Linked DNA regions of Homo sapiens. The protein of the gene in region 2 purifies or fractionates together with the protein of the main gene of each other region. This does not show direct contact. Each region holds a gene or a part of one and is shown on either strand. Other genes may lie near its edges. The genes, in order: QDPR and NCAM2.

Region 1 (3,826 bases), on a different chromosome or scaffold from region 2:
TCCAGAATGTTTGATTGGCTGGTTGGATGGGTCTGTCTTTTTTGCCTCTTTTTTTCCTCTCCCTTTCTTTTCTCCCTTCATTTCTTCCTTTAAAATTAGACTACACATTTTACTTTTTTATATGTAGTTCTGTCTTTCAAGTCATTATATGGGGTATGTATGTGTGAGAGAGAGAGAATATGGGAAACTGTTGGAGGTGTTTCTGTTGGTCATCGGGGGACTGTCCCCCATCAGCTGTCCCAGGCAGAGGCAGCTGCTTTGGAGGGAGGCTACTCCTTCTCGCTGGAAGGCTTCCAGCACCAGCAGGCTTGCCTCTTGCCTGTGGTCCTATAAAGGGATGCTGAGACTGTAGGGACTGCACTGATTGACTTTCTGGTTCCCTTTTAGTTGTGAGGTTCTGTGATTCTGTGACATGATTCCCACAGCTGTTTTGAATGATTCGAATGATTCCTGAGGCCTTGATGTTCTTGGGAGATTCATGCATATCTGAATTCTATATTATTCTGCCAAAAATCTTAAGGTTTTGTGGAAAATAGCCACATATTTAAAATTTTAGTATTTTAGTATTCTCATATTTAAAGGCATATAACTATCTTAAATCCTTAGAAATGAGTGTGCTGCATGTTAGGGAGTGAATAAAGACACAGCAACAAAGCAGTTTAATTCAGTGAAGACTCTTTTTTAAAAAGGCAAAATGTGGCTCCTTCTGTTTTGTTCTTATCTGCCTAAGTGGTGAGCCACAGCGCACCTTATTGAATTATGCTCAGATCTGGCCTTTGCTAGCGGGGACAGCTTCCTGCTCTCTCTCTGCTTATCTTTCTGTCTGATCTTTCCATGTAAATAGCACCCTCAGTGCCAGAGGCTCTAGGTTGTCCTGCTGTATGTTTGCGTTTTCCTGGCCAAGGGGGACTGGGCACCTGTTGTTAGAAAGGAGCGACATGAATGACGTGCTTATCTGTGTCCATTGCAGGGTTACCCTGGATACCCCGATGAACAGGAAATCAATGCCTGAGGCTGACTTCAGCTCCTGGACACCCTTAGAATTCCTAGTTGAGTGAGTATTACAGACATGTCCATGACTGAGCAGCTTCCAGCCCCTATTCTCTGCCTGCTGTGGTCCAGAGGACAAGTCTGTGTTCCCTGAGATCGTCAATCCGGGTGGTCTTGGGAGGTCTCTGGGACTCTGAGGATGCATTGCACATCAGACGGAATCTCAGAGTAGCTGGACTTGGAGACAGGCAGCACAGTGGCAGAATGGGTAGTGCCGACATGAATCCTGGCTCGCTCCCTCACCACCGGCCATGCTGAGCACATTATTGACCTGCTGAGGCCTCAGTTTCCCCACCTGTATCATGAGGTCCATCATGCTTGTTAGGATTAAACGTGATAGTGTGCGGCAAGCACTCAACACAGTGTCTGGCCATAACAAGTGCTCAGTGATCCCCAGCTGCAGTTTGTGTCCTTACTGCTGTGATGAGGAGACTCCATGGGGGAGGGGGACACCACGTAGATGGCCTGGGGGCACATATCTGAATCTGTGTCAAGCCACAGACCCACAGAAAGTGCCCTTTAATTTCCGAAATCCTTTTTGCCCATTTGTGAATATGGGTGGCATTTGAACGCTCATGGGACAGAGAGCTGAATTCCTCTTTTGTGTTTGTTTAGGTATCAGTTCCTCAAGCCCCTCTAGTTAGTAAGCATGTGTTCATCGAGCACCCACTATGGGCCAGGTGCTGCCCTCGGCTCTGGGGTCACGGTGAGGACAAAGATGGGATCCCTGCCCACAGGGAGCAGGGGTGCCGAGAGGGTCAAGGTGACAGCCTGACCCAGTAGTGCCTCTGTGTAAACTGCTTTGACGACTGTTTATAAGAGATGTTTGTGAAGTTAGCAGTGTGCTTCTGGCCTGATGTCACAATCTCATTTAAATTAAATCGGGAGAAATTTGGGACTTGCGTTTTATGTTTGAAATGTGTACTTACAGAACACTTTTTATGTCCCAGTCACCATTCTAAGCACTTCATAACTCTTATTTAATGCTCATAGCAAACTCTGAGGGAGGAGCTGTCATTTTTATTTAAGGCTTAGAGACTTGGAGGGATGGCAGGGGCTAAGTCACTCGCCTAAGGTCACACAGCACAGCCGGGATCTGACACAAGTGGTGTGGCTGCAGAACCTATGGTCTTAACTGGTGTGCTGACAGTTATTTCTGTCTATGCCAGGAATCATGCTTCATGCTTGATTTGCAGGAAAAAAATTGAAGTTGTAGAGGAAATCAAGCTTTGAATTGTGTTTGTGTTTGAATTTCTTTTTAAAGGCCGACACTCCCACCACACTTGAGATACTGATCTAAGACCTACTCTAGATGGAACATCTGGGATCTTGTGTCTGAACTCGTGCTGAGCCACAGACCCACAGAGGACGGGCTGTCACAGGCCCCCTTTTGTTCTAGAGATCACATCCACCCATTTGTGGTATTTGAAAACTCTCAGAAAAGCTGGCATAAAGTTTGCTTTGAGATGTCTGTGAGCACATCCTTCCTCTACCATCCCTGGTTAGAATGGCGTTCTCACTCACCTATCCACGCTGCAGATGAGGGTGAAGAAGTAAAACCATTTAAAACATGCATCGCAGCAAACCAACATGGCACATGCATACCTGTGTAGCAAACCTGCACGCTGTGCACATGTAGCCTAGATCTTAAAGTATAAAAAAACAAAACAACAAAAAAACATGTGTAACCAACACACAAAACCCTACACAACCAAACGGCACTGGTCTCTTTCAGAGCCTTCCCTCACCAAGCCCTACCCTGTCCCCAGAGATGAGGCCATGACATGACAGTACTTTAGAGAGTTTTAGCAACGCTTTGTTTTTTGAGCCCATGTGCTCATATGAGCTTGTTCAAACCCCAGAGTAGGGGCCTGAATGACTGGACCTTTACACATCAGCGCTGGCCCAGAAGGTTACAGATTGGCACTGGGAGTCTCCCAGGAAGGAAATGCTGAGCACTTTTTAGTTAATGAAGGTCCGAAGTCTCAGCTGGTGAATTGTCAAAATGGATGATGTACTCAAATGTAAATGTTTTGTGTTAAAGAATTATCATCTACTTCTTGTTTCTTGTGAATTTCTTTTGCCCTTTTTCATTCCTGTCTTCTTAGAGGGTCTTTTTGACTGCTGCAAGTGGGGTCAGTTGCTCCTCTCCTCAGATTTGTGAAAGGCCCTGTTACTGTATTTAACATTTTATTGTAATAGTCTGTTTTTTTCTATCTCTTTTTCCATTGTTTGGTGCAGCTGTGGGTACTCTATAAATGTTTGATTAAAAAAATGCCAAATAAATGAATTGCATCTGTTTCTCTCATAAATTTATGAGAAGGTAATATAGCAAAGTATTGTGCATGTGTCTCTCTCTTTGAATGAACTAATTAAAATCTTTAAAAACAATTTTTTTTTTTTTTGAGACAGGGTCTCACTGGGTCACCCAGGCTGGAGTGCAGTGTCACGATCATGGCTTACCCTAGCCTTGATCTCCGGGGCTCAAGCAATCATCCCACCACAGCCTCCTGAGTAGCTGGGACTACAGGCATGTGCCATGCCCAGCTATTTTTTGTATTTTTTTAGAGGTAGGGTTTCACCCAGTTGCCCAGGCTGGTCTCAAAAACTCCTGGGCTCAAGTGATCCACCTGCCTCAGCCTCCCAAATTGCTGAGATTACAGGTGTGAGCCACCACGCCTGGCCAAATTAGAATCTTTTAAAATCACAAAAGAATTCCAACAATGTAGAAAAATACCAAAATGAAAGTTAAACTTATGCCAAATCCTGCCACTCA
Region 2 (3,826 bases):
GTGAATCCTTGGATTCATTAAACTGGATTATTTCTATTCTCTCAACGCGCCCCTCCCTTCTTACAATTTGTTCACTCATTTTTTTTCTCCTTGTATTAATAATCTTCTCCATTTACTCTCACTATATTGAAGCCCTTTCTGTTTCACTGAATGGCAAGGTGATGTCCTGGTAAGAGGCTAGGCTTTGGACATGTCCCATATGCAAACCCTCATTTCCAAGCAGTACAATCTTAGTTATTTAAACTCCCTGTATCTCATGGCCCTCATGGATAAAGGAACGATAATCGTAATAATAACAAGCTAATAGAGGATTATGATAAGAGAGCCTGTCAGTTAGTAAACACAATCAATTTTAGCTCATTCTAGGCACTAAACCGCTAAGGACTCAGACTACTTAGTGTTTAATTAATTATATGACATATTTTGTCATTTTATAATATTTTGTTGAACAAGTTATATATCTCCCTCATGCTTATTTGGCTTTTTAAATTTATATTATTTGTTTTTGTAATTATCAACATTGAATTTTCCACACACATGCAAATTTTTAAACAAATGAATCAACAATATATCAAAAATAGGTATGCAACTGGAAGTTGGAAAATCTACTCCCAGTTCCAGATAACTACAAAAATAAGTGATATAGGCAAATCGGATCATTCTTCTGTACCTCAATTTCTTCATCCATAAAACAAAGCTAATTGTCTCTTGACTCATTGGTAATCATAAGTTATAAGGTGACTGAAAGCACTTCGCACAAGTGGTCGGTACTGTTAGAAGGTGCTGATAATATTCTCATTTTAAGGCCTCAAAAAGTGCTTGTTATTTGATTATCTGACAAAATGGCACAGAATTTAAATATATTTTACTTTGAGCTGAAGATATATTAGATTCATTTAAATAAAATCTATGAACAAGTTTGGTGTTAGGAGAACTGAAGAGTTTGGAGACTGGAGCTCTAGTAACTAACCTTTTTACTTTTCTGTTTGATCTTTAGTAAGTCATTTATCTTCATTATGTGCCCATCCTAAGCCTCTTGGTGTTTAACACCAGCCTGATGTTGGTCCATAGAAAGGATTCATGATACAAAAAAAAGCGCATCATTCCTCAAAACCTTTTACTGCCATCTGCTGGCAAATTGTAAAAATAAATATGTGTTGCATCACTAGGACAATAAGTGACGCCCCCTGGAGTTGTTCTTCACACAATCTACGCAACCATTCCTAGTAATGCTGTCTAATGAGGTGTCTGGGACAGGGCAGGTATTCTGTAAATGTTAGATAAATGAATAAATGATGAATGAGTCGCCCTTATCAATAACTTAAGTAATCTCTGTCCCCTTGATATTTTTTTCTAATCACAGAGCAGCTTATGATGATTTTTTAAAACTAAATAAATGTTTATAAGCCACAAATTAATCTGTATACACATTATTAAAAAATATAAACAAAGCCTAGCATAGTAGGGTTGACATTTGGTAAGGTGCCTGCCTACACATATTTATTGTTACAATTGCTCCTCATGGCCGAGCATCAAGGTCAACTGGCCAGATTTTATAATATCAAATTTTCAAATAAGCAAATAGTGGTTCTAAGAGCATAAGTTGCTTCTTCAAGGTTAAGAGACTCTTAGTAGCCTAGGTCTTCTGACTCCAAATCCAATGAATTTTCTTCATCCCTGTGAGTTGTAATAAATCAAATGGAGCCAAGAAAGATTTGATCAATGGACCTGAAATTCTTCAAACTATAATGTTTTGATTGCCATGCTTATAAATATTCTCAAAATTCCCCATTATCTTTCTTAATGATTTAAATTCAAACATCTTGATTTAAATTCAAGATGTTTCATTACTTCACAGCTTTCTAAAATGTCTGGTAATGTTTGATGGATCCTTAGTGGCACAAGTGAACATAGAAAACTAGGAAATATGTTGATATCTATTTGTGATTAGTACTCTTATTATAACTGTAAATTGTTAAAAGTTATTAAAATATTTAAAAGAGCACCAGAGAGAAGCACTTTTATTTGTTGAACAATTAGAGATAGCTTGGCTCTATAAAGTGCAGGAATTTTACATTTAATAAAAGCATAAAAGCACTGGTTGCATCTTAAAGTGTTCTCATATCATGTAATTTGGAAAATTAAAACAAATTTATAATCTTTTAAATAGGCCTATCCTCAGTTTAATTGGGATTGTATAAAGGGAACAATAAATTTAAAATTTAGGACAACAAAATTTGAAAAACAATGATAGTCCCTTCAGAAGTATATTCAAATTATTAAATTAATTTTGCACATATCAACACTCAAGGGATTAATTTCATTTTGGGGGGAAATAGGGCAATTTAGAATCACTCTATAGTTATTGAGCACTTTTCTTCATGCTCTCAAAAATTCATTGCTGTGAGAGATGACCCTGAAAAGAGATAAGTTACAATGATTTCCCAAATGTTAAAAGACAGAGAATGCAGGAGGACCAGTTCCAGAGTCTTCAGATTGTCGATCCTGTTACTATTTGCACTGCTTCCACACGAGGACAGGCAAAAACAAATTACACTGTTCAGCTTGGTTACTAGCCTCAATCTCTGTAGCTCATTTCTCAGTTTCATTGCAAACTAGTCCTATTTTTGAAAGAAGGCCATTCTATTTACAAAATCATATGAAGTCTAACTTTTGGTACTGAATGAGGTTCTTTTGTTCCATTAATTGCTTCTCTAGTAGGACAGTACCTCGGGGAGAAAATTAGCTCCCTGTGTCATTGAAAAGACTCATCTGACACTCTCGGGACCCACCAACTTCCCTTCTTGCTCTATGGGCTCCGATTCTGCATTAAAAGTGAGAAAATACTCTGCCTAACTCCTTTGATATGAAGTAGTGAGGGAAATCCTCTGGGTTACTCTGACAATAAAGATATTAATTTACATTAGCCTTTACATTACATCTTCCCCAAGTGCAAAAGAAGACCCAGTCGATTTAATAGAAACTTTGCACAGAGAGGCTGATATCAAAGAATTAGAGCACAGCAGATAGAAAAAGCATACGAGAGAGGCTGGAGCCATGTAACAGCCCCGACAGAAGATGAGTTTGTGGAGCTCTCTCCTGTAATCTTCAAACTAGTAGACACTCACACACCTGTGCTCTATTTTTAGAAGGTACATTGCTGTAATGTACAATGACTTACTAGCACTTCACCAAAGAGAATAACTGTAAGCAGATGACTGCTTTAACTGATCAACTGGGCAATTCACCCCTCCTTTCCTCACGATTTTGGCTTAGGTAAGTGTTCTAAGTGGTACGTTTGAACTGCATTGCAAGAGAGATGAATAGCATTATTCTTACTTTAGGTTTTAGTATAACAGTGCTTCTATCTTACATATGTGAACATCCAGGAAAAATGCTTATTAATCATACTTGTTTAATTTTTAAAGGAAGAAGGAAGTGGTTTCAAAAATGTAAAAACTCTCACGAAAGCAATCCATACATACAACAGTTTGGAAATTTGAATATACAAAGATCCAAACAGCAAATGCAGTTAATCAGAAACTGAAGTTATCACTTGAGATTTATGATTACAAAGCCTGTGACCAAGTTTTGAACACAAAGGAAAAATAATTGCAAAAGTTACAGAATTACAGCATTTTCTTTCATTGACAATTAAATTCAGACTTCACAATAACATTCTAACCTTACTTCATTATACATTAATCTTGCAGTGGAAATTAGAGGCTTTTAAAGGAGTATTTCTGCTACAATAAAAAAAAGCGTCTTACTACTGTACAACAATAAGGTTGTATTGAGAGTTACAAGTAAACTATTAGGCCTTGTT

What was found.
Region 1: the proteins of NCAM2 (region 2) and QDPR fractionate together in Homo sapiens (co-fractionation; one large-scale study listed by BioGRID). This does not show direct contact.

What each region holds. Positions count from the first base shown.
Region 1 is NC_000004.12:17,487,890-17,491,715, reverse strand, and holds part of QDPR (dihydropteridine reductase), read left to right. Parts: intron 1-970; coding exon 971-1,054; intron 1,055-3,826. UniProt on the Homo sapiens protein: Catalyzes the conversion of quinonoid dihydrobiopterin into tetrahydrobiopterin.
Region 2 is NC_000021.9:21,001,232-21,005,057, reverse strand, and holds part of NCAM2 (neural cell adhesion molecule 2 isoform 2 precursor), read right to left. Parts: intron 1-3,826. UniProt on the Homo sapiens protein: May play important roles in selective fasciculation and zone-to-zone projection of the primary olfactory axons.